Homo sapiens: one gene and its partners. The protein of the gene in region 1 purifies or fractionates together with the protein of each later gene. This does not show direct contact. Each region holds a gene or a part of one and is shown in the gene's direction. Other genes may lie near its edges. The genes, in order: ARHGAP36, CLPX, PDS5A, CAND2, APOD, CSN2 and SMC1A.

What was found.
Region 2: the proteins of ARHGAP36 (region 1) and CLPX purify together in Homo sapiens (affinity purification with mass spectrometry; one large-scale study listed by BioGRID and IntAct). This does not show direct contact.
Region 3: the proteins of ARHGAP36 (region 1) and PDS5A purify together in Homo sapiens (affinity purification with mass spectrometry; one large-scale study listed by BioGRID and IntAct). This does not show direct contact.
Region 4: the proteins of ARHGAP36 (region 1) and CAND2 purify together in Homo sapiens (affinity purification with mass spectrometry; one large-scale study listed by BioGRID and IntAct). This does not show direct contact.
Region 5: the proteins of ARHGAP36 (region 1) and APOD purify together in Homo sapiens (affinity purification with mass spectrometry; 2 studies listed by BioGRID and IntAct, with this or other methods). This does not show direct contact.
Region 6: the proteins of ARHGAP36 (region 1) and CSN2 purify together in Homo sapiens (affinity purification with mass spectrometry; one large-scale study listed by BioGRID and IntAct). This does not show direct contact.
Region 7: the proteins of ARHGAP36 (region 1) and SMC1A purify together in Homo sapiens (affinity purification with mass spectrometry, with the first as the bait; one large-scale study listed by BioGRID). This does not show direct contact.

Annotation. Positions count from the first base shown.
Region 1 is NC_000023.11:131,060,931-131,065,249, forward strand, and holds part of ARHGAP36 (rho GTPase-activating protein 36 isoform 1 precursor), read left to right. Parts: intron 1-4,319. UniProt on the Homo sapiens protein: GTPase activator for the Rho-type GTPases by converting them to an inactive GDP-bound state.
Region 2 is NC_000015.10:65,174,792-65,179,110, reverse strand, and holds part of CLPX (ATP-dependent clpX-like chaperone, mitochondrial precursor), read left to right. Parts: intron 1-59; coding exon 60-177; intron 178-4,319. UniProt on the Homo sapiens protein: ATP-dependent chaperone that functions as an unfoldase.
Region 3 is NC_000004.12:39,897,337-39,901,655, reverse strand, and holds part of PDS5A (sister chromatid cohesion protein PDS5 homolog A), read left to right. Parts: intron 1-1,148; coding exon 1,149-1,230; intron 1,231-2,830; coding exon 2,831-2,879; intron 2,880-3,127; coding exon 3,128-3,267; coding exon of another isoform or gene 3,268-3,300; exon of another isoform or gene 3,301-3,642; intron 3,643-4,319. UniProt on the Homo sapiens protein: Probable regulator of sister chromatid cohesion in mitosis which may stabilize cohesin complex association with chromatin. May couple sister chromatid cohesion during mitosis to DNA replication.
Region 4 is NC_000003.12:12,802,721-12,807,039, forward strand, and holds part of CAND2 (cullin-associated NEDD8-dissociated protein 2), read left to right. Parts: intron 1-767; coding exon 768-911; intron 912-4,319.
Region 5 is NC_000003.12:195,570,254-195,573,940, reverse strand, and holds part of APOD (apolipoprotein D precursor), read left to right. Parts: coding exon 1-91; intron 92-2,575; coding exon 2,576-2,664; intron 2,665-3,687. UniProt on the Homo sapiens protein: APOD occurs in the macromolecular complex with lecithin-cholesterol acyltransferase. It is probably involved in the transport and binding of bilin. Appears to be able to transport a variety of ligands in a number of different contexts.
Region 6 is NC_000004.12:69,955,497-69,959,815, reverse strand, and holds part of CSN2 (beta-casein isoform 1 precursor), read left to right. Parts: intron 1-746; coding exon 747-767; intron 768-862; coding exon 863-907; intron 908-2,011; coding exon 2,012-2,542; intron 2,543-3,460; coding exon 3,461-3,466; 3' UTR 3,467-3,502; intron 3,503-4,223; 3' UTR 4,224-4,319. UniProt on the Homo sapiens protein: Important role in determination of the surface properties of the casein micelles.
Region 7 is NC_000023.11:53,409,155-53,412,776, reverse strand, and holds part of SMC1A (structural maintenance of chromosomes protein 1A), read left to right. Parts: intron 1-523; coding exon 524-782; intron 783-875; coding exon 876-1,016; intron 1,017-3,273; coding exon 3,274-3,356; intron 3,357-3,507; coding exon 3,508-3,622. UniProt on the Homo sapiens protein: Involved in chromosome cohesion during cell cycle and in DNA repair. Central component of cohesin complex. The cohesin complex is required for the cohesion of sister chromatids after DNA replication.

The DNA of each region.
Region 1 (4,319 bases):
TTTGTGGGTAACTATTGATATTCTGCAGGGCTATAATTGCTTTGGTGCCTCCCTTTGAATGTCCTTCAGAAGTCTTCAGGAGTCAGAGATGGGGTTGGGGGAGGAAGCTGTCAGCTGACTGGACAGAACTGGGGCAGTATCTAAATGTTCCTTCACCCCCATTCCCCTTGCCCAAGAGATAGCTGGCATGTGACAGCAATTTTTTTTTTGAGGGGCAGGTTTATTTTGTCTTCATTAGAATATCATCACTCTTTTGTTGATGTTTGCTATTTTTTTTTTTGTTCAACTCTTTTTTAAAAAAATTTACTTTAAGTTCTGGGATACATGTGCAGAACGTGCAGGTTTGTTACATAGGTATACATGTGCCACGTTGGTTTGCATCAGAGAGATTTTTCAGGGCGACAACGGGCAATGGGCAACCATAGGAAGGCACTTGGGAGAGGCATCACTGAGGTCTGGGAGGAATGAGGGCCCAGAAAGGCCTTCTTTCCCAGGGAAAGAGACAGCACAATTGACCCACTTGAAATTCTCTCCCCAGTTCACTCTTGGCATTGGATTTGGCCTCAAACAATTGGACTTCTGTAAAGCAGCCAAAGCTCTAAAGCTGAAGGGACCCTGGGGCGCACTTTACATACAAATTTGATCTTTTCTTGGAGATGGGACCGAATCGATTTGCTGAGGCCAGGCCTAGTTGTGCTGCAGCAGGATCAGTTTCCAAAGCTGGGGCGTGACTGCCAATGAGACCAATGAGACACCCCATTCTCCAAGTCAGGTCGTCAGATAAGCACCCCCATTCACCAATGGCAGGACTTCCCCAATTTTCTTTATTACTTGTTTGTACCTCAAAATACATTTCTCCCAAAGAAAAAAAATGTGATGCTCTAGAGCTTAGCCCATACCTTACCCATCGTGAGGATAAAATACAGAATCTGTGTGATGAAAACTGGCAGAAAATAATACTCTTGCAAATATATCTCAGGCTCCAGCAGTAGAGCTGACATTTATCAGGCTTAAATATCAAATGATGGAAAGCATTGAGCACTGATACAGCAAGGCACCAGGTCCGTGAGGGTGATTATGGCAATGGTGAAAGTAACATCATTCCTTTTTTTTCACACCTACCTACTACAACAACCTAAATGTCCAACAATAGTGGAATGGTTAAATAAATTCTGTGATATATCCCCTTATTAGATTGCACAGAATCATAAAAATTGTTTTTGTGAAGAATATGTAACAACATAGAAAATGGTATGATTGTAACTGTCAAATATGCATTTTTGAAAGACTAGAAAGAAATCGACAATAAGATAAAGTTAGAGAATCTATTAAGGTGGTGGGATAATAGTTATTTTTCTCTATGTTTTCTAAAGTCTATGAAGTTTGTTCTTCAATTACTGTTATAATTTAAAAAGGCATACAAGGGTAAATTTAGTACCTGTGATATGCAAATAATCTATACAGTGATCTAGAATTTCACTATACATAGTTTAAAGAATTTTTTCTCCTAATTTTAGTTTAAATGTAATGACTAGATCCGGCCAGCCAACCATGATCTTCCCAATGATCATGAAATTTCCACTAACTCTGGGTGGGAAGAGGAACAACTGGTTTGAATCCCAGGCCAGCTCTTATAAGGTTGCTGTGAGAGAGTTACTTAACCTCTCTTAAAATGACATAATAATGTCTATATTTTGGGGTTGTAAATAATAATAATAGTTCTTATTACTGCTGTTGTAGATGTCATTATGTTAAATGCTTTCTATGGCTCAGTTATCAAAAGAAGCTTTTTTCCCAAATGTTTACTATTTGTAAATACCAGTCATACTACATAAACTATCTCTAACCATAACAACTTTCTGAGGTTAGTATTATTGTCTCTATTTTAAGGACAAAATCTCAGAGAAGTTTAGTAACTTGCCCACTGTCACACAGTGGCTGAGCAGGGATTACAATCCTTTTTGATCTGACTTCGAAGCTTGAGTGAAATTAAAAGAGAGAAACATTTGCAAAACTCCTATGCTGACATATGGCAGACATTTACTAGGTGGTCAACATGATGTTGGTGATACTTTGCCCAGGACCCAGATGCTGGTCTTTGACTTATTTGATTATCTATAAATTTCTTTCTGTGAAAAGGAATTTCAACTGAAAGATGCAATACAAACGCACCACCTGTGTCCTCATAGATGTGGCTCTGAGTCACTAAGAAACGATTTCTGTTTCCTTCGGCAGTATCATTTGTTCTCACATGTATCAGCAGAAGTAGGTAGATGGCATGTTTGATGAGCCTTGGCAGCTACTGTCACGTCTCAGATACACTTCCTGAGAAACCACGCGGCTTCCTCGGGATGAGTACTCAATACTCAGCAGCTGGTAGGTCCCTGCTTATTAAGGAAACTTACTAAGTGGCATGGGCATATCTGGAACCCCTGCTCTAACTATTCTCTGTCTGATGTGGTTGACACCTAATTGCTACCCCTCCCATTTCCCTTTTCAAAGCTAAGGCTCCAGGATTTCCACAGAAGCATACAGGGGTAGGAGCTGGAGAAGTTTTTCGAAATTCTTAAATCCTCAGAGGGACTCACTTGCAAGGAGGAATCTAGGGTTAGTGAAGGTAGCATGCAGGATAAATAGAAGGGATGAAGGAGAGGGAGGAGTTGAAGGCACCTTCCAGAGTCTGGGAACATCTAGGGGTGGACCTCTCAGAGCTTTTCCTGCCATGAATCTCAATACCTCTCTACTCTGTAGTCTCTTTATCCCTCCCTGGGATTATATCCACCACCACCACCCCTCCCCCGCCCCCAATTTCTTGATCTTCCACCACCGCTCCCTGCTTAAATGCAGCTTTAGCTTGCAGTGACTTGCTTTTGTCTCTAGAGGGAGGCAAAAGCACCAGGGAGGAGGGGGTTCAGATTGGGGTCTTCTTCCACTTCACTAGTTTTGGCAAAGAGTAGAATTTATTTTCCTTTCATTGGGAACATATGAATAAAAGCTAATCAGAGATGTATTTTAAGTGCTGCATAGCATATCTCAGAGAACCATCATATCTTTCTCTATCATTCCATCTACCCCTCAACGTAGGTGGCTGCTAGAAACTGGATGGTCTTAGGCACTATTATTTCTAGAGTGAAAGTGAGGGCAAAGCAAAACAGGAGTCATAGGGCAATCTTAGCCAGGAAATAGTCATGCTTTTATTTTCTGGGGCACAATGGCACATATTTAGGAGACTGGGTTGGGGCTGGGTCAGCAATTGGGGTGGAGGGAAGTCTGGACAGTGAGCAGAAAGTTTGAAACTTTCCTGTGTGGAGTATTACATCTGAAACCTTGGTCTCATTAACACTGCGAGGAGAAACTGCAGAGTGAGAATTGGACTTAAGGTCCAGTTCTTCCGGGGCTGCATTAGGCTGATCAAACATCTTCCTAAAAGAAGAGGGACTATTTCAAGAGTGTCAGACAAGCCAGTAATGAGGAAAATTGGCAGTTTAGTCAGTTGGCTCCACTCCCTGAACACCATGGTTGAGACACTCTGGGCTACATGAGAACGAAAAAAAGTGCAGAAGGGAATTAACTAACCTTTTCTTAAACATTTACTGTATCTGTTAACCACTTGGCTGGTGGTTTCTATGGTTTACCTCCTTTAGTCATCTGAGCAATTCTAGGCAGGTGTTAACATCTCCATTTTACAGTTGAGGAAACTGAGGCTCAGAGAGGTGAAGTATCCTTCCCAAGATCACACAGCAAGTAAGTGCTCGAGCTGGGATACCAACACAAAGCTGTCTCATTCCGAAGCCTGTGGTCTTTCTCTGCCCTCCCCACATGGAAAAAACAAAAGCCCTGATTTTCAAGGGCTTTACTCTCATGGGGAAACCATGATCTCTCTCCCCACAAAAATCCACATTTTGGTGCCCTGCTCCTCCAGATTCTTATATTTAGGGTGAAATCAAACAAATCTCTGTTTATATTGGACAGTAATGGGAGTTAGTAAAGCATTTTCACCTTTACAATTCCCCATATAATCTTCATGTTATGGGAACACATTTTCTGAACTCCAAAGAGAGAGAGAGACTTATGACAGCGATTTTAAGCTCCAAGGAAGTGTGTGTGTGTTTGTGTGTGTGTGTGTGTGTGTGTGTGTCTGCGTGTCTGTGTGTCCATCCCATGGTGGTGGCATATTGATAGGGATTCTGATAGCCCCTCTTATTGCCCCAATTATATGGGTGGGGGGCATTAGAGAAGGATAGCTTTCAATTATTCTAATAGCCCCTGGCCCAGGACTGCATCTTTGGAGACATAGCCTGGAGCTTTTGGCTTCTTCA
Region 2 (4,319 bases), on another chromosome or scaffold:
GTTGGTTGCCTGAAACTAATAATTGACACTCTTCCTTTTTTCTCCTTCATAAACGTTAGAAATCAGCAAGTGAGGGAAGTAGTAAGAAATCAGGCTCTGGGAATTCTGGGAAAGGTGGAAACCAGCTGCGCTGTCCTAAATGTGGCGACTTGTGCACACATGTAGAGACCTTTGTATGTAAGTATTACATCTTCTACTGTTCTTTTTTCCCTACATTTTCTGTAAATTACTAAGTGTATAAAAATATGTAAATTATGTAAAATGTATAAATATAGGCCAGGTGCAAACGGCTTATGCCTATAATCCTAGCACTTTGGAAGGAGGAGATGGGAGAATCCCTTGAGCCTAGGAGTTCAAGACCTGCCTGGGCAACATGTTGAGACACCTGTCTTTCCAAAAAAAAAAAAAAAGCCAGGTATGGTGGTGCATACCTGTGGTCTTAGCTACTTCTTTTAAGAAGGTTGAGGCTGCAGTGAGCCATGGTCATGCCACTGTACCCCATCCTGGGTGACAGAGACCCTGTCTCAAAAAAAAGAAATATATATATATAAATTGTATTAAATGTGTAGAAATATGGATTATATGAAATAGATAAATGTATGTGACTTTGTATGTTATATAAATTATATGTAAATTGTATGAGCTTACCTGATTCTCTCTTATGTTCACTATATACTAGAAAATCTTCAGGACTGGTAATACTTTGCACTGTTGTGTAAGAGATAATTTAAGAAAAACATTTGCTTCTTTATTTTGCTTACTTGTGTTTATTTCAAATTAGATTTTGTGAATTTCTGGATGTGATCATTAGGCTATAGGAGAACCAAGACTTATTTATTCTGTATTTATTACTACTTTCTTCAAATACATATTGAATATCTCACATGGCTGGGAAGGCCAGTCATTCATATATTAAGGTAATTTCCCTTAGTACTTACCAAAGGAGGTAAGCCCTCAATTCCGGGAAGCATCTGATAATTATTAATGATTCAGACACTCAGAGAAGGAAGAAATCAGGGCTGGGCACAGTGACTCACACCTGTAATCCCAGCACTTTCAGAGGCTGAGGTAGGCAGAGTGCTTGAGCCCAGAAGTTCAAAACCAGCCTGAGCAACATGGCAAAACCCCATATGTATAAAAAAATAAAATTAGCTAGGCATGGTGGTGCATGGCTATAGTTCCAGCTACTTAGGGGCTGAGGTAGGAGGATCGCTTGAGCCTGGGAGGTGAGGCAGCAGCGAGCCAGCCATTGAATTCCAGCCTCGGCGACAAAGCAAGAACCTGTCTCAAAAAAAGAAAAAAAGAAGGAAAAAAATCATGTATCCTACTTTTGCTGTTAGTGTCAGTAACTCTCTGAAATGCAAAGATTCTACTACAGATATTTTCATTAATGAATCAAATAATCAAAAAACTCATTACTTAACATAATTTAGAGTTAATGGTAATGAATTGTACCACCATGTCAGCCTTCCTATACAATCCAATTGAAGAAAGCTTCAAGATTGTAAGACTTCAGTGTCTGATGGTTGGCTAGAGAGTATTCTCTATCTCCTAACCCTAATATTGAGACTTTGGTTACAATTTCACACTTACCATTAACCATAATTGGCCACCATATGAAAAGGTACTAGATGTAGTGTGTTTTTATGTACTGGAAAGACTTAAAGTAGCTCCATCCCATAGCTGGAATATTAGGGGTTCTGAACAAAATTTAATTTGGATCACAACATAAAATGAAAGTGGGCCAGGCGCTGTGGCTCACACCAGTAATCACAGGACTTTGGGAGGCCGAGGCGGGCTGATCACTTGAGGTCAGGAGCTTGAGACCAGCCTGCTCAATATGGTGAAACCCCATCTCTACTAAAAATACAAAAATTAGCCGGGCGTGGTGGCGTGCATCTGAAGTCCCAGCTGTTCGGGAGGCTGAGACAGGAGAATCTCTTGAACCTGGGAGGTGGAGGTCATGGTGAGCCAAAATCACACCACTGCACTTCTCCAGCCTGGGCGACAGAGTGAAACTCCATCTCAAAAAAAAAAGGTAGAACTGGATGATAAAACCTTCTAAACAAATTTGATGTGATATAATAAAATTATACAGAGGCTGAAAATTGTTCAATTTATAAGGTCAGTGTCTTATATTTTAATCAAGAAATTTTCCTCCTTTTTTTTTCTTCAAAGAAACATTTCAACCTTTATAGACCTAAAGAATAATTTGTTGCCAGGCGCGGTGGCTTACACCTGTAATCCCAGCACTATGGGAGGCTGAGGTAGGCAGATCACCAGAGGTGAGGCGTTCAAGACCAGCCTGGCCAACGTGGTGAAACCCCGTCTCTACTAAAAATACAAAATTAGCTGGGCGTGGTGGCGGGCACCTGTAATCCCAACTACTCAGGAAGCCGAGGCAGGAGAATTGCTTGAACCTAGGAAGCGGAGGCTGCAGTGAGCCGAGATCACACCACTGCACTCTAGCCTGGGAAACAAGAGTGAAACTCCGTCTCCAAAAAAAAAAAAAGAAAGAAAAAAAAGAAAAAAGAATAATTTCTTAGAGTAGAAAAGGAAAGAAACTAATATTTAATAAATGCCAACATATATAGTTTTATTCTTGCACCCTTAATTTTGCCAGAACAAAGAGTATTCTCCTTTTTATAAATAAACTGAGATTTAGCAAGTTTAAGTAACTCATTCAAGGTCACATAGCAGTGAAGATTTGCTATTCAGAAATTCCTATATCATACATTTCTACCATCTGGAGATACTTTAGGAGTAAACTAGCTCCTCTTGGGATTAAATTTATTTTCCTTCTATGCATTCTTTCCAAAACTTGCCAGGTTGTATTAGTCACTGAAGGTGACTGTTAAACTTAGAGATTCCCAAACTCCTTCCCTAGAGATTAAGATTCTGTAGATGTGGGATGGAGTCCTAGAATTTGTATGTTAGTAGTATATGTATATTATTAGTTAGACCAAGTGTGGAAACACTACTTTAGTGTAATCAATTCAAGGCTGAGGCCTGTTTGCTTTGAGAATTCTAATTGTGGGTGGTGATATGGGAGTAGAAAATGTAGAAGGAAAGAATGAAAAAAAGAGCACACACTTATGTGCAAAATTAATAGCAAATGTGTTGATTCAGACATCACTAGGCTCAGAAAATATGCAGATGATCATGACACTGTCCCTGTCCTCTAACTATTTGTAGGCCCTAGCAGTGCAGTGAGCCCCTCCTCCCTTAGTTTTGTGTACCCATAATAAAAGTCTTTTCAGAATGCATCCTTTTGAATCCTTCTGTGTCTGATCATTAAAAGTTGGGTCTTCATAGTCCTAAAGAGAGTTTTATTTGATCTCAGGTTACTAACAGGTTGAGCATCCGTAGTCTGAAAATCTGGAATTCAAAATGCTCTGAAATCCTTTTGAGTGCGTCATGACGCTTAAAGGAAATGCTCCATTGGAGCATTTCAGATTTCAGATTTCATGTAGGGGTGCTTAACCAGTGTATTTCTGTGAATATTCCAAAACGTGAAAACATTTGAACTCTGAAACACTTCTGGTCCCGTGCATTTTGGTTAAGGGATAACTCAGCCTGTTTTTTTGTTTGTTTTTTGTTTCTATTGTTTTTCTGAGGCAGAGTTTCACTGTTCTCACCCAGGCTGGAGTGCAGTGGCGCGATCTTGGCTCACTGCAACTTCTGCCACCTGGATTCAAGTGCCAGCCTCAGGTGCCTCAGCCGCAGCCTCCCAAGTAGCTGGGATTACAGGTGCCCACCACCATGCCAGGCTAATTTTTGTATTTTTAGTAGAGACGGGGTTTCACCTTGTTGGCCAGGCTGGTCTCGAATTCCTGACCTCAGGTGATTCACCTGCCTTGGCCTCCCAAAGTGCTGGCATTACAGGTGTGAGCCACCATGCCTGGCCTGCATTTTAAGTCTGCATTTATTTGGATACTAGTTTGTAAACATCTTTTTATATGCTTTTTGGTCAGTTGTAATTCTTTTGTGAATGGCCTGTTTAAGTAATTGTCTACTTTTTTGTAATTTTAATTATTTTTAATTACTTGAAGAATGCATATGTAGATCCTCCTTTATGAGAAAAGAATAGACCCTGATAGATGAAGCTATAAAGTTCTATAACATATCTTCATTGAACGTGTGATTTTTTTTAAAGTATAAATAGCATATTCATATTTTTGCAAATTGCTTGTTTTCAGTACGCAGCGTTTTGAGAGCTGTGTATGTTAATGCAGTTGACTCCCGAACAGTGGGTTTGAATTGCTCAGGCCTACTTATACCTAGCTTTTATTCAACCAAACACATAATGGCCAGCATAT
Region 3 (4,319 bases), on another chromosome or scaffold:
AGAGAATTTTGAGTTAGGAATTTGACTGTTTGCCATTGTGGCTTCTTCAAGTGTTCCTGCATTATTAGATTAAGACTGCATTTTTAGGCCGGACGTGGAGGCTAACCCCTGTAATCCCAGCATTTTGGGAGGCCAGGGCAGGCAGATAATTTGAGGTTAGGAGTTCGAGACCAGCCTGGCCAACATGGTGAAACCCCATCTCTACTAAAAATACAAAAATATTAGTTGGGCATGGTGGTGCACGCCTGTAATCCCAGCTACTAGGGAGGCTGAGGCCGGAGAATTGCTTGAACCCAGGAGGCAGATGTTGCAGTGAGCCGAGATTATCCCATTGTACTGCAGCCTGGGCAACAGAGTGAGACTTGTCTCAAAAAAAAAAAAAAAAAAAAGAAAGAAAAGAAAAAAAGACTGTCATTTTGGCAGAAATTCTATTACGATAGTGTTGTATCATGGTTACTAATCCCTTTCCTTGCTTAAGGTTTTGATGTTTGTTTACATTTCAAAATATCTGACAAAGAGTGTTTAGAGATTAGTAATTCTCAGAGGTCATCTGGGCACCTGGAAATATGGATGGGATTTCTGAGAGAAGAAAATCTGTGTTCCTGGAGAGAGAAAAGTTTAGAATAAACACAATAATGTAAATTTGGCATCTTGAATCTGCATCATTTTTGATACTTCATTTTTCAAAATAGTCTATAGTGCTTCATGTATATGCCTTAGCCTTTTTAATAAGGCCTTCATGATTTGATCTGTGTCTGTGGAATGCTCCAGCTTCCTTATGCTCCACACACATGCCTTGTGCTCCAAGCGTATACATGTTTTTCAGTTTGTTTTATGTCCCTTGCACTTTGAGATTTTCTTTCCTTGTACCAAAACTTTCTAGCTACCTGTATTTAGTACATCTTTCAATCCCTGTATTACTTATTAATCTTTCTAAACCTCTCAAATATTTTCTCTCATAAGAAGGCTTATATTTACCATTTGTACTAAATTGTTTTAAATCCTAATAAATATATTTCCCGGTATTTAAACTTTTAGGTAGATGTAGAAGAATGGTGTATATACAGCATGCAACAAGAAAGGTTGTAAAGCTGAATAATTTCCAGTATTGTTATGTAATGTGTGTTTTCATATTCATAACTTTACAGAGCTCTCAACGAAATGTGGAAGTGTCAGAACATGCTTCGGAGCCATGTACGCGAACTATTGGATTTGCACAAGCAGCCTACAGTAGGTTCATGATTTGTTTAAATTCATAGTTTATTATAGTCACTGTTCAGATTTTCTGTAGTTCTACGTAATGAAGCAGGGAAAAAGTATCTCAGTTGTTTTATTTTCCAAATGTCAGTTAAATATAATTTCTGTAGTTGTCCAAGCTAAATTTCCATTTAAAATAAATATAACAAACTCTTATTTTCTAGTGTGAGCAAAGAAATGGTGTTTTCTAGTTTATATAAAGTTTTCAGACACTAAGAGTTTATAGTTAATCAATTTTCAAATAATTAGAATTAAATTTTGAGATAAAATTACATTAAACATCATATTTCTTTTTCACTGCATGATTCATGGTCTCTCAGTGTAGAGTGAATATCAGATATCAATCCTATAAATATGCCAATGGCAAACTAAAAAAGAAATGCCATTAAATTTTTGCAAGGTTGGGGAAAAAAACTTTACATTTTTACGTGTGTTCACTAGAATAGGTGTTCTTAACCAGGGGACCATATAAACAGACCCCTCAAGGACACATGGATGCTGGAACAGGGGCGGGCAAACTTTTTTTTTTTTTTTTTTTTTTTTTTTTAATACACAGGATCTTACTCTGTTGCCCAGGCTGTCGCATAGTGGCATGATCACAGCTCACTGCAGCCTCGATGTCACTGGGCTGAGGTGATCCTCCCACCTCAGCCTTCTGAATAGCTGGGACTACGGGTGTGCTCCACCATACCCAGCTAGGTTTTGTATGTTTTTTGTAGAGGTGAGTTTTCACCATGTTTCCCAGGCTGGTCTCAAAATCTTGGGCTCATGCAGTCTGCCTGCCTAGGCCTCCCAAATTGCTAGGATTACAGGTGTGAGATACTGCACCTAGCCTAGCAAACTTTGAAAATAAATCAACAGATAGCAAAAACATATTTTGCAAGGCATAGAGTCTGTGGTCAGATATTCAACCCTGCCTTTGCAAAATTAGTCATACACGATAAATAAATGAATGGACATGACTATATTCCATCGAAACTACTAACAAAAACAGGTAGCTCATGGGGGCATAGTTTTCTAACTTTTGAACTAAATTATTCAAATTTAGTATAAATGAAAACTAATAAGTAATGTTTTATGGGATACAGGAAAGGGAAGTACGTTTTAGAAAGGAGGTTTTCCTGAAGGTATTTAAGTAACGGGCCACAAAGTAGCTAACAGAACTCTATTGCAGAAAAAAAAGTTTCTTCTCTATATTTTTAGTTAATTTTTTGTGGCATGTAGTTTCATAGTAATTCTGATATGATAAGTTTATATGTTGATTGCTTCATTGATCTTTTTTCAATCTTCTGGCAATGTAACTTTCCTGTGAAAGTTATATACTTGTGGGTTTTTAAGTACCTTCCTCCCAACATCTCCTTTCCTTCTATTTGTCTTAATAGTTGCTACTATGTAATTCTTTGTTGTTAGTTTAGCGTATATATGTGGTAAAACCATTTTCCATTGAGCAGACTGTGATGAACTTTATTTTTTAACGTCATGAAAAATGTACAGTAATGAGTATTGATTTTTGTTAGGGAAATTTGTTAACACATATGACTAGTTGTTCTTTTGTTTCTGTTTTAAATTTCAGTCAGAGGCTAACTGTTCTGCCATGTTTGGAAAACTGATGACCATAGCAAGTGAGTATGTTTATTTACTCACTAAACATGTAGTAAACGTAAATGCAGACAAAGTATTTACCCAGTGGGACTACTGATTTAATGTTAAGTAAAAGAAAATAATCTTTATCTTAATTTTGTTTCTAAGAACCAGCTAGGCTGATTTTCTTTTAGTGGCTCCGCAATATTTTGATGGCACCTGTTTTTAGCTTAGTAGAATAGTTTTTTTTTTTTCCTTCTCTAATATTGATTCTCTTTTAATTTTATAGAGAATTTGCCTGACCCCGGGAAAGCACAAGATTTTGTGAAGAAATTTAACCAGGTTCTCGGCGATGATGAGAAACTTCGGTCTCAGTTGGAGTTATTAATTAGCCCAACCTGTTCTTGCAAACAAGCAGATATTTGTGTGGTTAGTAAATCATACTTCACACTTTTTCTCTAGCTTTACTTACAGAAATATGTATTTTATTAAAGCCTGTTTTACATACAGTGATTTGTGTAAATGTAACAATATTGTGAGCTCTGAATTACTTTGGAGTATATCTATTGTCAAGTTAATTCTCTATTTACCATTCACTCTCAGCCACATTCCAGGAAAATAACTAAAGAACTAAGCCAGGGAGATTGGTCTTAGGAATTTTACAAGATAAAGTACTTTGAACTTAGTAGACATTCATTGAGTAATGATAAGTATTTTCTGAATGCTTGTGTACATGTGCATTTTCTTCTTTCATGTATTAGAATGGAAATAATCGTCAATAAATTAGTAGTAGTAACATTGCCATATATCTGGTTTCATTTACAGATAAAGTAAATTCCTATCTAGACTTTTGTCTTCATTCTTCTCTTGAACTCATTTAAAACCAATATTCTTAAAGCTATCAGGAGGGAAAACTTATGCATTCATTTATTCAGCTTTTTTTTTTTTTTTCCTGAGATAGTCTTGCTTTTGTCACCCAGGCTGGAGTTCAGTGGCACAATCATAGTTCACTACAGCGTTAAAGTCCTGTGCTCATGTGATCCTATACCCCAGCCTTCTGAATAGCTAGAACTATTGGCACACGCATCCACACCCAGCTAAGTTTTTAAATTTTTTGGAGGCCATGCACATTGGCTCACACCTGTAATCCCAGCACCTTGGGAGTCCAAGGCGTGTGGATCACCTGAGGTTGGGAGTTCGAGACCAGCCTAGCCAACTTGGTGAAACCCCATCTCTACTAAAAATACAGAAATTTGCCAGGTGTGGTGGTACATGCCTGTAATCTGAGCTACTCAAGAGGCTGAGACAGGAGAATTGCTTGAACTCGGGAGGTGGAGGTTGTAGTGAGCCGAGATCATGCCACTGCACACCAGCCTGAGTGACAGAATGAGACTGTCTCAAGAAAAGGAAAAAATAAAAATTTTTGTCTCTGTGTTGCCCAGGGTGGTCTCAAACTCCTTCAAGTGATTATCTCACCTCAC
Region 4 (4,319 bases), on another chromosome or scaffold:
GGGAAACATTCTGAGAAGTGCATCCTTAGGCGATTTTGTCCTTGTGTGAACCTCATAGAGTGTGCCTACACAACCTAGATGGTAGAGCCTACTACACTCCCAGGCTATATGGTGTGGCCTGTTGCTCCTAGGCTACAAACCTGTATTGAGTACTGTAGGCAGTTGTAACAGAGTGGTATTTGTGTGTCTAAACATAGAAAAGGTACAGTAAAAATAAGGTAGAAAAGATTAAAATGGCATGCCTGTATAGGGCAGCTCCATTAAAATCTTTTTTTTTTTTTTTTTTGGAGACGGAGTCTCTCTCTGTCGCCCAGGCTGGAGTACAGTGGCATGATCTTGGCTCACTGCAAGCTCCGCCTCCCGGGTTCACGCCATTCTCCTGCTTCAGCCTCCCAAGTAGCTGGGACTACAGGCGCCCGCCACCACACCTGGCTAATTTTTTGTATTTTGTTTAGTAGAGACTGGGTTTCACCATGTTAGCCAGGATGGTCTTGATCTCCTGACCTCGTGATCTGCCCACCTCGGCCTCCCAAAGTGCTGGGATTACAGGCGTGAGCCATTGCGCCCGGCCAGCTCCATTATAATCTTATGGGACAACCATTGTATATGTTGCCTGTCACTTACCAAAACATCATTATGTGACACAGGACTGCATTTGACCTCGAATCTTTGTATTAAGGTCTACTTCTAGGGGAACCCTGAGGTACTGCCCAAATCCACCAGGGCCCAGGAGCTGCTCAGCAATCTCCTCCACCCTCCCTGTGCAGGTTCATGGCCACCAGCGACCTGATGTCGGAGTTGCAGAAGGACTCCATCCAGCTGGACGAGGACAGCGAGCGCAAGGTGGTGAAGATGCTGCTCCGGCTCCTGGAGGACAAGAACGGTGAGGTGCAGAACCTGGCTGTCAAGTGGTGAGTGTCAGCCTCGGTGGAGCAGGAGAGGGGGCCCTACCTTGTGTGGGAGCATCCTGGGGACCGCTGTCCCTTTGGGGTACAGCCTCGCAGAGGAGACCTGCTGAGCAGCTCTCGTTGAATGGTACCTTAGTCTGAGTTTTCCCAGAAGATGCTGAGACAAGGATTCAAATCTAAGTTTATTTGGGAGGCGCTCCCAGGAAACATGGTAGAGGAGTAGGGAAGTGAGGCAGGAAAGGGAAGAGGACCAATCAAGGGTATGGTACGAAGCAAGTGACCACAGTGGGCCTGATGAGCTTAACCCCATGGGGACCTCTGGGACACAGTATAGGACATGTCCCTTGGACTTTTCCCACTCAAAGGGTAAGGGAGCTGGGGTATTAATCCACCAGCTCCCTGGTAGTCATTGGTTAAGGGCTGCTTCTGGGGTAGGATGGAGGGTTGTCCACTGCCTGCCACCTCCAGCCAGAGAAAGCCCTCAGACAGATGTAAATGCTGGGAAGGTCAAGCTGACACACATCAAGGTGGTAAAGGCTTAAAGGCTGGGTGCGGTGGCTCATGCCTGTAATCCCAGCACTTTGAGAGGCCAAGGCAGGTGGATCACCTGAGGTCAGGAGTTTGAGACCAGCCTGACCAACATGGTGAAACCCTGTCTCTACTAAATAATAATTAAAAAAAAAAAGTTGCCGGGCATGGTGGTGCGTGCCTGTAATCACAGCTACTTGGGAGGCTGAGGCAGGAGAATCGCTTGAACCCAGGAGGCAGAGATTGCAGTGAGCCAAGATTGCGCCATTGCACTCCAGCCTGGGCAACAAGAGCAAAAATTCCATCTCAAAAACAAACAAACAAAAAAGGCTTAGGGCACATGGGACTGGGAGAGGTCCTAAAAGCCCCAGCCTTAGATCACTGTGAGGCTGTGATCCTGAGACGTTGGCCAGTTATCTCGAGTAGAAAAAGACAAGACAAGGGTATGTGCAGAGCACGTGGGGATGCTTGTGTGGTAGGGTCATTCTCACACCCACACCTGAGAACCACTAGTGTAGGGCAGAGGTTGTCAAGCTTGACTGCAGGTTAGCATCACCTGGGTAATTTTAAATAGAATGCCAGGGATCAAGGGACAACAGGGTGAGAGAATTGGGCACTGTCTCTCAAACCACTGTCTGTGAGCTGGGTCCAGGCATTCTTCTGGGGCATGTTAATGAATTTGCAATGTGATCCCAAGAGCAGAGAGAATTCAGTAAAGGGTTTTATGTAGGAAGGTGACATGGACAAGTTTATGAGCTGGGAATGTCTTTCTGGTCATGGAGTAGACTTAGGATGGGTTTCACACCAGCAGAACCAATACCTTTTTATAACAAATAGTTTGTAATACCGTTTCCTATTAGGAAATGAAATTCATACATTATAAAACCTACCTCTACACATAATGCCCTAACCATAACCATAAAGGCAAACTAGAAGGAATGTAGTTTATAGTAATGTGTGTTTCCATGTATGCGTGCTTGGGCACTGTGATGGTAGAAGTGATGAAGTCACGAGAAGCCTGCATCTACACGTGAACTCATCATGAGTACAGATACAGACAGGGGGTGTTGGGGACTCAGGTTTCAGAATTGGAGGCCATTGCTCTTAGTGGCAAGATTTTCTTTTTTTTTTCTTCTTTTTTTTTTTTTTGAAACAGAGTCTCACTTTGTCACTCAGGCTGGAGTACAGTGGTGCAATCTCAGCTCACTGTGACCTCCCCCTCCCAGGTTCAAGCGATTCCCATGTCTCAGCCTCCTCAGTAGCTGACATTACAGGCATGCACCACCACACCCGGCTAATTTTTGTATTTTTAGTAGAGTCGGGGTTTTACCATGTTGGCCAGGCTGGTCTTGAACTCCTGACCTCAAGTGATCTGCCTGCCTAGGCCTCCCAAAGTGCTGGGATTACAGGCATGAGCCACCACACCCAGCCAGGATTTTCTAAAGTGAGTGACCATCTCCCAATAAAGTTTCCCAGAAAACAAAGTAGAATTTTCCTTCAATTTACCTGAAAATTGCATTCTTAGAAAATCTAAAATGTGGTATATTAAAACAATGTAAAAAAGTATTTTGTGTCTATGTATAAAATGAAATTTTAGACTCAGATAATTATAGAAAGGCCTTTTGCCTATACAAATGCCCATTGGGATGTTAGAACCTCTTGCGGGGCATGGACAGTGCTTTGTTTTACATTATTGTCTTTCTGCCGTTCCTGCTTCTCAACCCCTTAAAGGCCAGAAGTACTAACTCAATAGTTTTGATGACCAAGGACCCCCATAAATTGCCAAGGTGGTATTACTCCTAGTGGGAACCAGTGCTATAGGAGGTAGGATGGAGGACTCCATGATTACGTAGATAGAGGAGCTGTGGAGAAGGAAGTTGAGAGAACCAAGGTTTGAAAACCATGGTGCACATGCCTGTAGTCCTAGCTATTCTGGAGGCTGAGGCAAGAGGATCACTTGAGGCCAGCAGTTCAAGACCAGCCTGGGCAACATAGCGAGACACTGAAAAAAGAAATTAGCCAAGCATGGTGGCTTGAATATGTAATCTCATCTGTGTAGGAGGATCGCTTGAGCCCAGGAGTTTGAGGCTGCAGTGGGCTATGATCACGCCACTGTATTCCAGCCTGGGCAACAGAGCGAGACCTCATCTCAATAAAAATCAAGAAAAAAGAAAACCATTGTGCATTGCAGTCACCTGAAGCTCTTGTTGAAACCCTGTATTCCCTGCCCAGGGATTCAGATTCAGGGGATGGAGCAGGAAGGGAGCTGGGGCAGAGGATGAGACTATAGCACCCTGGAATCTGCATTCTGATGCACACCAATGTCTGAGAACCACTCAGGTAGGGCAGAGGTTGTCAGCCTCGACTGCATGTTAGAATCACCTGGGGAATTTTAAAAGCCCTCCCCCAACCCCCTCCAGGCCACATCTGAAACCAATTAACTGAGACTCTCTGAGGGCAGTGCCCAGGTAGGCATTTTTTAGAGGCCCAGGTGATGGCAACTAAGGCCAAGAACGAGGGCGTCTAGTGCCGCTGTTTTTACACTTTCCTGTGCATTGGAATCACCTGGGGACCTTGTGGCGCTACAGATCCTGGCTCAGTAGATCTAGGGTAGGGTAAGGCCTGAGATTCCACATCCTGAACAAGCTCCCGAGTGGCATTGCCAATGCTAACTCACCACCAAACTTTGAGAAGCAAGCCTCTAAGGCAGAGGTTCTCCAAGTGTGCTCCCTGGACCACCTACAGTATCAGCCTCAACTGGGAGCTTGCTAGAAATGCACACTATCAGGCCACACCTAGATATAGCCCTCCTGACTCTGAAACTCTGGAGGTGGGGCCCAGCCATCTGTTTAAACAAGCCCGCCAGGGGATTCAGATGCACCC
Region 5 (3,687 bases), on another chromosome or scaffold:
TCCCAACAACCTTTGAGAATGGACGCTGCATCCAGGCCAACTACTCACTAATGGAAAACGGAAAGATCAAAGTGTTAAACCAGGAGTTGAGGTGAGTGGCTGTGGGCGTCCGGGGCCAGGCCTGCGGAGTGCTGATGCAGAGTGACTGGGTGTCCGGCAGCCTGGGTCAGGGAGGATGGGAACCTTGCTGGATCGGGACTGCCTGCTCCTAGCAGGAATTGAGAGGAAAGCGTTTGGCAGGCAAGGATGGCAAGGACTAGGATCCACTTATGCATTTCCATGACCACCTGCGGGGCACAAACTGACAGGGTTCCTGCACTCACTGCAAAATAGATACTCTGGTAGCAAAGAACATCAAGACCATCTCTTCTGACCTCCAGTCTGGGAGAGAAGCCGCTTCGACACCATCTGCTGACAGAAGCATCCAGCTTTGTTCAAACACTTCCAGGAACTGGGAGCTCATCGCCTTCCAGGACAGTTCATCCCATCTCTGGGCAGCTTAATCTATCAGAAAGCTCCTTTTCTTATTAAGCAAGAATCACATACACAACATTCACACTCTAGGTTATGTAAACAGGATATCCTTTAGAAGTGTACATTTCTATTACTGAGGGCTTCTAACACAATAATTAATCCAAAAAGCTACGCTTTGGAAAGCAACTATAAACTTAAAAAGAGCCCCAGGAAGAGCTCCTTCCTACCCACCTTCCACTCTTGAAAATACAAATGCAGTTTTTCCATGAACATGTTGTGACTTCATGGTCAGAGACTGGTGTCCTGAAAACCGTTCTAGAGCAAAATGCAATTGACGGTGAAAAGGGCAGAATCTGCTGGGAGGAGACTGGTTTGTTGCTAAGTTAACGTATGCAGATAGAAACAGACCATCTTCCCCAGCTGTCTGAGATCCAGATGAGAGAGGAGGGCACGGTCTCCAGCTTTACATGGTGATAAACAGAGAAAGTACTTGGGAACATCAGAGCACAGTTCCCAGAATCCCTGGCCTGTTGCTCATTGTCCTGTTTCTAGGACATCCGTCACCACTAACCATAGCATTAACCTACTGACTTTCTTTTTTTTTTTTAATTGTATTTTAGTAGAGACGGGGTTTCACTGTGTTGGCCAGGCTGGTCTTGATCTCCTGACCTTGTGATCCGCCCCCCCTTGGCCTCCCAAAGTGCTGGGATTACAGGCGTGAGCCACCACGCCCGGCCAACCTACTGACTTTCTAACACATACGACTGCTCTAATTTCAGTTGGCCTCCCTGCTCTGCCTTGAGGATTGATAAACAGACATCCTCTCCTCTGTTGGCTTCCTAGGAAGAGCACCCTGATGCCTTAGCACCCTCCCTTTGGTGCCTCCATCTCCACACCTTTCCCCTTCTCCCAAGTTCATGGGGCCATTGGGAGTCATCTAGAAAGCAGGCTCATTCAAAGAGGTGAAAGTATTGCATCCAATCTAAGCCCCCAGCTTTTAAGACACACCACTGCGTTATATGCCACTAAGAAAGGAATGACACTGCTAATTGTCAGGTGACATCAATTGTGAGATATGCATTTCTTCACATTTAATGTCTCTGAAATCTGGGCATACCTGAGAATCACTGAGATAAAGTAAATGTTTCTTCACTGCCTCCTTTTACTTGGCCTACATTGAAATCCCCCACACTCACTCAGAGGCTTGCTGAACTAGAGGGAGTCTCTGGACTCAGGCCCCTTGATGGGACAGGCGATGTCACATGATATCACTGAGGCCCAAAGAAGGGGAACGCTTTTATGTCTCCTTGTTTTGAATTATTTTCAGTGATCAAGTCCATCCTCATCTGTACCTTTGGCCCTTCTCGTTTTAAAAAGAAGTGAATCTGCCAGGCACGGCGGCTCACGCCTGTAATCCCAGCACTTTGGGAGGCTGAGGCAGGTAGATTGCCTGAGGTCAGGAGTTTGAGACCAGCCTGGCTAACATGGTGAAACCCCGTCTCTACTAAAGATACAAAAAATTAGCCAGGCGTGGTGGTGCATGCCTGTAATCTCAGCTCCTGGGGAGGCTGAGGGAGGAGAATTGCTTGAACCGGGGAGGCAGAGGTTGCAGTAAGCCGAGATCGCACCACTGCACTCCAGCCTGGGGGACAGAGCAAGACTCCATCTCCAAAAAAAAAAAAAAGTGAATCTTCTTTGTGTGTTGGGTTGTTTTGTTTGTTTTTCCATTCTCTTTTCTCCCTTTCTTTGGAGACTGGGAGCAGGAATTGGTCTTTCAGGCCATAGAAGATAGTCAGAGATAGTGTTGAAGTGCAAGGGCCTAACATACTGTCCCATCCTGGAGCTTGTCAATTGCGGCTTCTTATCACCCCGCTGCTCTCTTCCCCTGCTTGGCCTCAGAGACAGTCACAAGGGAAAGGCCAGGCCATGGAGCTAGGGTCTAGCCTGCCTTTGAGAGCCTCTCTTACCAGAAATCACGGTGTTGGCTGCCACGGTCCTTAGTGGCACAAATCTTGCCTTTCGTTGCTTATTGGCTTTCAATGAGTTGTTTTTCTTTTCTCTTTTCGTTTTTTGTATTTTTTCTTTTTTTAACTCACTGCAGAGCTGATGGAACTGTGAATCAAATCGAAGGTGAAGCCACCCCAGTTAACCTCACAGAGCCTGCCAAGCTGGAAGTTAAGTTTTCCTGGTGTAAGTATCCACTTTTCCCAGGAGGATTCAGGGACAGGAAATATGCAAACTGAAGGCTAGCGCCCCGGCTTGGAGAATTCCTGAGACACCTGAGTGTCATCTATAATCACTCAGCACATAATTATCTGTCAAACACTTACTACATGTCACGCACTAGGGTTGCCATGATGAGCCGGACAGAGCTGGCCTTGGTACTTATGGAGCTCACATCCCAGTGTGGATACTGACACGTGACCCCGCAATTTACTATAACTAGCTAGCGTTTCAACAGGTGAAACACAAGTAGGTGCACACCGGGTGTGGGCTGCAGAAGACACAACCCAGTCTTGTTTCCCAAAGGAAACTGGGGCCCGAAACATTAGCAGATATTAGCAGAACAACCTGCACGGCGCAGAAACTAGGAAGCAAGAGATGACAAGAGTGACGGCAAGTTTGAATCCTGCTTCTGCCACTTTCCAGTCACATTGTTGGGGATCCTGTGAGATACCTAATGACAGGCATTTGCCTCTGGGTTCTGAGCTAACTGAGGAAGGGACACAGGCAATAGAGAAAGCACCAAATATTAGTTTTATTTCCGACGAAGATACACTAGAGAGTTCAACCCAGAACTGTGAGGCTTTCTAACACGAAGAGTGCTTGAAAGCCCCTTTCCCACCTGCAGGGTAGACACTGAAGTCATCAGCTACAAAAGTTACTCCCTGCACTTCCTACTTCTCATCTCTGCCACTCCTCCACCCCACACCAGTCAAGTGCCTAGAGCGGGGAGGAGAGGAAGTTCTAATTTTATAGACCAAGAAAGGAATGCTGGGAGGAGAAAACAGTTCTTCTCACACTATGAATATGGACAACTAACTTCACATGTACAAGCCAGAAATAACTGCCCAGTGTCGTGAAAATAAACCAGATACACACGCTCTGTAAACTGTAAAGGGCTTTATACACAGTTTCTCTTGTTATTTTTATCAAGAAGGGAGCTAAAGTGCAGGTGGGCTGAGTGACGCAGGCCATCACTGAACTCATTAG
Region 6 (4,319 bases), on another chromosome or scaffold:
CATATTGTCCTGTTTTCTGCCTTGAACTCTCTTTACTCTGAACTTATTCACCTTAAGCATATACTGACGGCCTTCTATGGGTCAGACATTGACTAGGAGCTGTGGTACAAACTGAAAAGTTAGAGATGCCAGTGATAGTTAAGAGCTTGCTAAGTAGTAGGTAGGCAGACGTGCAAAAAGGACACATTTTATAATTACAATAGCCACTTTAGTAAATAAGCGAGATTTAGTGTAGTCCTAAATTTACCTGAGAGAGTCAGGTAGATATTTATTCTTACACCACTCTTCTTGGGTGTGTGATCACTTGATAAGTAAATGGTACATCAATAGATTCTGTCTCTTCAGAAAGGTTATATGATCCTTAAGGGAAGTGTTTAACTCTTATGATTCATTTGAAGTGATCATAATGTATCAATTGTTATTAGAATATATTTTCAATGAGTATTTCTTTTTTTAAAAATCAGATGGGGTTTTAGATATCATTTGTTGTCAGGGAATGAGCATGGTGGTAGAGAGAAATTAGCATCTATTAATTGCTTTTTTTTGTACCATGTCCTTCTTGACTGCATTCATCTGACTTTCTTTTACATAACAAGCTCATATAGAACAGTTTAATACATAAGTTTAATGATTATACAAAGTTATTAATGATATTATCAAAGAATTAATGCCTTTATTTCCTGATTTATATTGCAAAGTAAGAATTGTTAAAACTAAACCTAATTTTATTTTATATTTTTCTGTAGGAATCTATTACAGAATACAAGGTAAATTTTCACATTTAAAATGTACACATTTTCAAAATTTCCTCCTTTTAATCTTTACAGATGGTAACATATCTTTATATATGATATATCTTTAGCAGAAAGTTGAGAAGGTTAAACATGAGGACCAGCAGCAAGGAGAGGTAATTTGTTAATGATAAGTATATGTTTAAAATTATTATAAAGTATAATACATACAAAAATATTTATAATGTGTATGTTGATTCTAAAGAATGATAATAAAATAAATGCCATATACCCACCAACCACTTTAAAAATTAAACATTGATAAAGTCAATATATTTTCTAGGATATGCATGCATTTTTAAACTCATAATTAATTTCTAGAATACAGACTAAATACATAATGATATTACTAATGGTATATCTGTTTTCAACAAGTACACATTGGTGGGAACATTTCCAGGTTGGGAACTATGATCCTCTTATTTCCAAGGTGGATATGGTAATGAAAAGGTGTATACGGCTGGTAAAAAAACCTATGTAAAATTTGTCCCATATTGCCTTTATTCCCATATGGACAACACAAAATCCTGTATTTCATTAAATTACATTTATGGTGATATGTTTACCCAATTATAATTTTCAATTGCTTTGTGTACCAATGAATTGTTTGGAGTCACATAAAATATTTCTAAAATCAAATTTAAACAAAAAAATTGATGTCTCTTGAAAGACTCAAGAGACTATCTTCTCCCAAGGGAAGGAATGTAAGAATTTGGCCGGTGTTAAATTACTTCCTGAGATTAGCCACAAATTAAGACTGATTTTCTTTTTCATCAAACCAAAACAAAACAAAAATAAACCTTGGAATTGTCCCTCTAAGTCTTTTTAAACTGATCTCTTTTCACTGTATGAAAACAATTTGGTCTACTATTGGCACAACTGTGTTGAAAAGTAAATTCTCTCTGAAGACCAAAGTGTACAGCTACAGCTATCCAGGCAATTCAGGAAAATGTTAAAAAAAGTGTTTCTGAAATATCCAAACATTGATTTCACTTTGGCCTGTGGAGTTACCCATGAAGTGAGTGGATTAAAATTTTTCAACAAACAGTTTACTCATTTTTCTTCGCATGACTCAAGATACTTTCTTAACCAAAATAAGTGAAATATTTTCTCCTCTCTTTTTACTCATTTATCATTGTCTAAAAGAGAGAAATGAATTCATTATGAATGGCAATTATAGCTTAATCAAGGACTCAAAGATTCTTTTTCCTTCTTTCCAGGATGAACACCAGGATAAAATCTACCCCTCTTTCCAGCCACAGCCTCTGATCTATCCATTCGTTGAACCTATCCCCTATGGTTTTCTTCCACAAAACATTCTGCCTCTTGCTCAGCCTGCTGTGGTGCTGCCTGTCCCTCAGCCTGAAATAATGGAAGTCCCTAAAGCTAAAGACACTGTCTACACTAAGGGCAGAGTGATGCCTGTCCTTAAATCTCCAACGATACCCTTTTTTGACCCTCAAATCCCAAAACTCACTGATCTTGAAAATCTGCATCTTCCTCTGCCTCTGCTCCAGCCCTTGATGCAGCAGGTCCCTCAGCCTATTCCTCAGACTCTTGCACTTCCCCCTCAGCCCCTGTGGTCTGTTCCTCAGCCCAAAGTCCTGCCTATCCCCCAGCAAGTGGTGCCCTACCCTCAGAGAGCTGTGCCTGTTCAAGCCCTTCTGCTCAACCAAGAACTTCTACTTAACCCCACCCACCAGATCTACCCTGTGACTCAGCCACTTGCCCCAGTTCATAACCCCATTAGTGTAAGTCCAAATTTACTGGCTTTGCTGTTTCATTCAAGATGTGTATGTGATGGTAGAATAAAAGAATAAATGTAGAGTAAATGAATTAAAAAAACAGTTTAGATAAGTGATTCTTTTATTATTATACTTTAAGTTTTAGGGTACATGTGCACAACATGCAGGTTAGTTACATATGTATACATGTGCCATGTTGGTGTGCTGCACCCATTAACTCGTCATTTAACATTAGGTATATCTCCTAATGCTATCCCTACCCCCTACCCCCACCCCACGACAGGTCCAGGTGTGTGATGTTCCCCTTCCTGTGTCCATGTGTTCTCATAGATAAGTGATTCTTAATGCTTACCTATACAATAGAATCACCTGGAGAACTTTTCCCCACAAATCCCAATGCCTAAGCTTACCCAGAGATTCTGATATAATTGTTCTAGTTTTTTGTGTAGAGGAAACTGAGTGTTGAGAAAAAAACTATTGCATGAATTCTGGTTTAATTAGTCTGTTGAGAATTCTGATTTAGATAAAGTAATTAAGGCTTACAAAAGCCGGAATTAAATTTAATAATATGATTGAATTTGGAAAAAAAAGCTAAAAAATGTTCTGTCATTTTCCTTGTGCACATCTCTTTTACACAAGCCTTACTTCACATCTTGTTTTTGCTATAAGTATATATGAAGGCAAAAGACTGAGATGCTTATTTCACTACTTACAACATTCTTAAGGCAAGTTTTCTTACTAAGAGGTTATTTATTTATTTATTTATTTATTTATTTTACACAAGCCTTACTTCACATCTGGTTTTTGCTGTAAATATATATGAAGGCAAAAGACGGAGATGCTTATTTCACTACTTACAACATTCTTAAGGCAAGTTTTCTTACTAAGAGGTTATTTATTTATTTGTATCTGTTTATTTTTAAGGTCTAAGAAGATTTCAAAGTTAATTTTCCCTCCTTATTTTTGGTAAGTTTTGGGAGTTTGGAGATTTAATTGATCATTTTTATACATGATGTCTTTTTACATTTAATTCTCCTAGAGAAGTCCAATACAGTGAAAATTTCATACATACAAGAACTTTTTTTATTAATTATCAATTTAATGGTTGACTATCATTTACTGACCTGAAACTATCTATCTTTTGCATTTCAAATAACTTTAATTTTATTTATGTACTATTGACAGATTTGACTGGCTTGCTTTCAAGGGCCTATATACTTACATTTGATTATCACTATTTTTAGGAAAGACAGAATATATACTTATTTTACTTTTATGGAAATACATTTGAGCTTTTGTCAAAAGCCTATTTGCATTTTTATTTCTAACCTAGCCTTCATAAAATTTGTATTTACTTTACTTAAAATTATCTTTTAATTCATGAGTTAAAATTACTCCAAGTGTAAAGGTTAAAAAGAGGAGAGAACAGCATTGCAATTCTAAGATATAAAGCCTTTTGGGATTATGAAATACCAGACATTTCACTGAAACAATTTCAAGTTCACTAATATTTGATGAACTTTGGTGAAGTTTGGTGAACAAACTTTACATGCCTCCAAACCGCAACAGAATGCATTTGCAATACAATTTCTTTTGTGAATTAGTCACACCAAAGTTAAAAGTGAAGAGAGTTGAATAGTTACGTGTTATAACATAACTAATTATATATTTGCTCTCTATTCCACAGAATTGACTGAGACTGGAAATATGATGCCTTTTCCGTCTTTGTATCACGTTACCCCAAATTAAGTATGTTTGAATGAGTTTATATGGAAAAAATGAA
Region 7 (3,622 bases), about 78 Mb from region 1:
TTGTAAGAACCAGGCACATTTCTTGACTTGCAGTTTAGACAAATAGAATATTTAAGCACTCAGGCCCTGGGTAGACAGGTGCTCAGATGAGGGAGAACTCAAAAGGGGTGGTGGCCTTGCCAAGAAAGAGGAACCAATGTGAGGCCGAGCCAATGGAGTGGCTGAGAAGGCCTTCCTAGAAGAGGAAACTGAAGCTAGAAGTTTAAAGGATAGGAATTTGAGGGGCCAACTAAGTAAATACAGGATGTTCTTGGGAGTTGTTAATGAGCTTCCTGGCCAGGGTTGAGGCAGAGTTGGTAGCTTTGCCTTATGGAGTGGCTGGAATGCCAGGCTGAAGTCATACCTTTCAGGGAGTAGTCAGACTGCCCCTTTTTTTCAGGATCTGTGGGGCATTACGCCCATGTTCTTTTAAGTAATTCCCTGAGGTTGGCTCAGGGGCTCAAGCTCTCCTTTGGGTGAAAAGCCTGGGAACCCTCCCTTCTTCCATAGTTCTCACTGGTTTCCCCCACCCCTCTGGCAAAAGGGAGAAGGACTCAGAATTGAACCAGAAGCGGCCTCAGTACATCAAAGCCAAGGAGAACACCTCCCACAAAATCAAGAAGCTGGAAGCAGCCAAGAAGTCTCTGCAGAATGCTCAGAAGCACTACAAGAAGCGTAAAGGTGACATGGATGAGCTGGAGAAGGAGATGCTGTCAGTGGAGAAGGCTCGGCAGGAGTTTGAAGAACGGATGGAAGAAGAGAGTCAGAGTCAGGGCAGAGATTTGACGTTGGAGGAGAATCAGGTAAGCTCTGGAAGGGGTTGGCAGGGAGGAGATCCCTGGGCTGACATCTGCTGACTTGGTCATCCCTGTTCTCCTTCCCTGTCCCTAACACAGGTGAAGAAATACCACCGGTTGAAAGAAGAAGCCAGCAAGAGAGCAGCTACCCTGGCCCAGGAGCTGGAGAAATTCAATCGAGACCAGAAAGCTGACCAGGACCGTCTGGATCTGGAAGAACGGAAGAAAGTAGAGACAGAGGTGGGCTATAGTTATAAGATTAGGGATGATGGTCCACAGAAAAGGATATATATAGGTTGAGCATCCCAAATCCAAAATAATCCAAAATCTGAAACGTTTCCGGTCCTAAGCATTTTGGATTAGAGTTACCCAACCTGTAATGATAGTCTTTTTTTTTGTTTTTTTGTTTTTTTGAGACAGAGTTTCGCTCTTGCCCAGGCTGGAGTGCAGTGATGTGATCTCAGCTCACCACAACCTTTGCCTCCCGGGTTCAAGCAATTCTCCTGCCTCAGCCTCCTGAGTAGCTGGGACTACAGGCGTGCGCCACCATGTCCAACTAATTTTTGTATTTTTAGTAGAGACAGGGTTTCACTACGTTGGCCAGGCTGGTCTCGAGCTCCTGACCTTGTGATCCACCCACTTCGGCCTCCCAAAGTGCTGGGATTACAGGCTTGAGCCACTGCGCCTGGCCATGATAATCTTAATGATAATGACAATGATAATGACAGTAGCTCACATCTGTTGAGCACTTACTGTATGATAGGCAATGTTCTTTACATGTATCCACTCATTTAATTCTTCATTTATTATTATCTTTATGGAATGGCTACTATTACCCTATTTTATGAATGAGGAAATTACAACACAGAGTAATTTGCCTAAGGTCACAAGATTATTGTTATTTTTGAGACAGAGTCTTTCTCTGTCATGCAGGCTGAGGTGCAGTGGTGCGACCATGGCTCACTGCAGCTTCGACTTCCCAGGCTTAAGCAATCTTCCAACCAGAGCCTCCTGAGTATCCAGCATTACTTGTGCTTGCCACCATGCCTGGCTACTTTTTTTTTTTTTTTTTTTGAGACAAAGCCTCACTCTGTTGCCCAGGCTGGAGTGCAGTGGCATGATCTCAGCTCACTGCAACCTCTGCCTGTCGGGTTCAAGTGATTCTTTTTATTTTTTTATTTTTATTTTTATTGTTTTTTGAGACGCAGTTTCTCTCTTGTTGCCCAGGCTGGAGTGCAATGGTGCCATCTCGGCTCACTACAACCTCTGTCTCCCAAGTTCAAGCAATTCTCCTGCCTCAGCCTCCCCAAGTAGCTGAGATTACAGGCACCAGCCACCATTCCCGGCTAATTTTTGTATTTTTAGTGGAGACGGGGTTTCACCTTGTTGGTCAGGCTGGTCTCGAACTCCTGACCTCAGGTGATCCACCCGCCTTGGCCTCCTAAAGTGCTGGGATTACAGGTGTGAGCCAACGCACCCAGCCCGGTTCCAGTGATTCTTGTGTCTCAGCCACCCGTGTAGGTGGGATGACAGGTGGGTGCCACCACACCTGGCTAAATTTTTTGTAGTTTTAGTAGAGATGGGATTTCACCATGTTGACCAGGCTGGTCTTGAACTTCCGAACTCAAGTGATCCGCCCGCCTCGGCCTCCTAATTTTTTAATTTTTATAGAGTCAGGGTTTCTGCTTGTTGCCCAGGCTGGTCTTAAACTCCTGCCTGCCTCTGCGATCAGCCTGCCTTGGCCTCCCAAAGTGTTGGGATTACAGGCGCGAGCCACCGTGCCCGGCCACTCACATAACTATTAAGTATCAGAACCAGACCCTGGGCATTGTAGCTCTAAAGCCCACACTCTTACCAAATATACTTTACTTACTGCCTCCCTGATATCAATATTGTAATAACAGCAATGATAGAAAGTTGTCATAGTGTCCCAGGAGTGTACAGTGTTCAGGCATTCTGCTAAGCACTTTTAAATATTTAAAAGAATGTTGGCCAGGCGTGGTGGATCACTTGAGGCCAGGAGTTTGAGATCAGCCTGAGCAACACAGTGAGACCCTGTCTCAAATTTTAAAAAATAATAAAAATTTTTTAAAAATAATGTGATAGTCATTAATATTAATAACAACCCTATATTAAGCACTTAATGTGTATTCTATGCAGTGGAGATTACCCACATTTTGCAGATGAGGAAACAGGTACAGAAAGGCCTGTGAAGCTTTATCTTGATTTGAGCCTCCATGGTTGGTGAAGAAGATGCCTTGGCTGGGTAGAACACCTATGAGAGGTTCTGGAGCTCTGGGAGGCCCCCATCATTAGTTAGTAGATCAAACCGAACACCATCTATGTCTGCTTTTTAGTAGGCCTCCTATATTAGTGACAGATTGTCCTGGACTGTTCGGCTCTTGGATGAGTGGGCACATAAAGGGTGTGATCTAGAGCCCCCATGGTCTTGGCGTAAACTCGTGCAGCCCCTGATGATGGAATGTTTGTTTCCCAGGCCAAGATCAAGCAAAAGCTGCGGGAAATTGAAGAGAATCAGAAGCGGATTGAGAAACTGGAGGAATACATCACCACTAGCAAGTATGTAGCTCTGCATCTGTCCCCCTTACTTCCAGGCCTGTTCTTGTGACCCTACCTACATGCCCCTCTTCATGCAGGACCCCCAGAGCTCTCTGAGCCAGGAGTATTTTCTCACCAGCAGGAGTAACTCCTGTGTGCCCTCACTTTGTAGGCAGTCCCTAGAAGAGCAGAAGAAGCTAGAGGGGGAGCTGACAGAGGAGGTGGAGATGGCCAAGCGGCGTATTGATGAAATCAATAAGGAGCTGAACCAGGTGATGGAGCAGCTA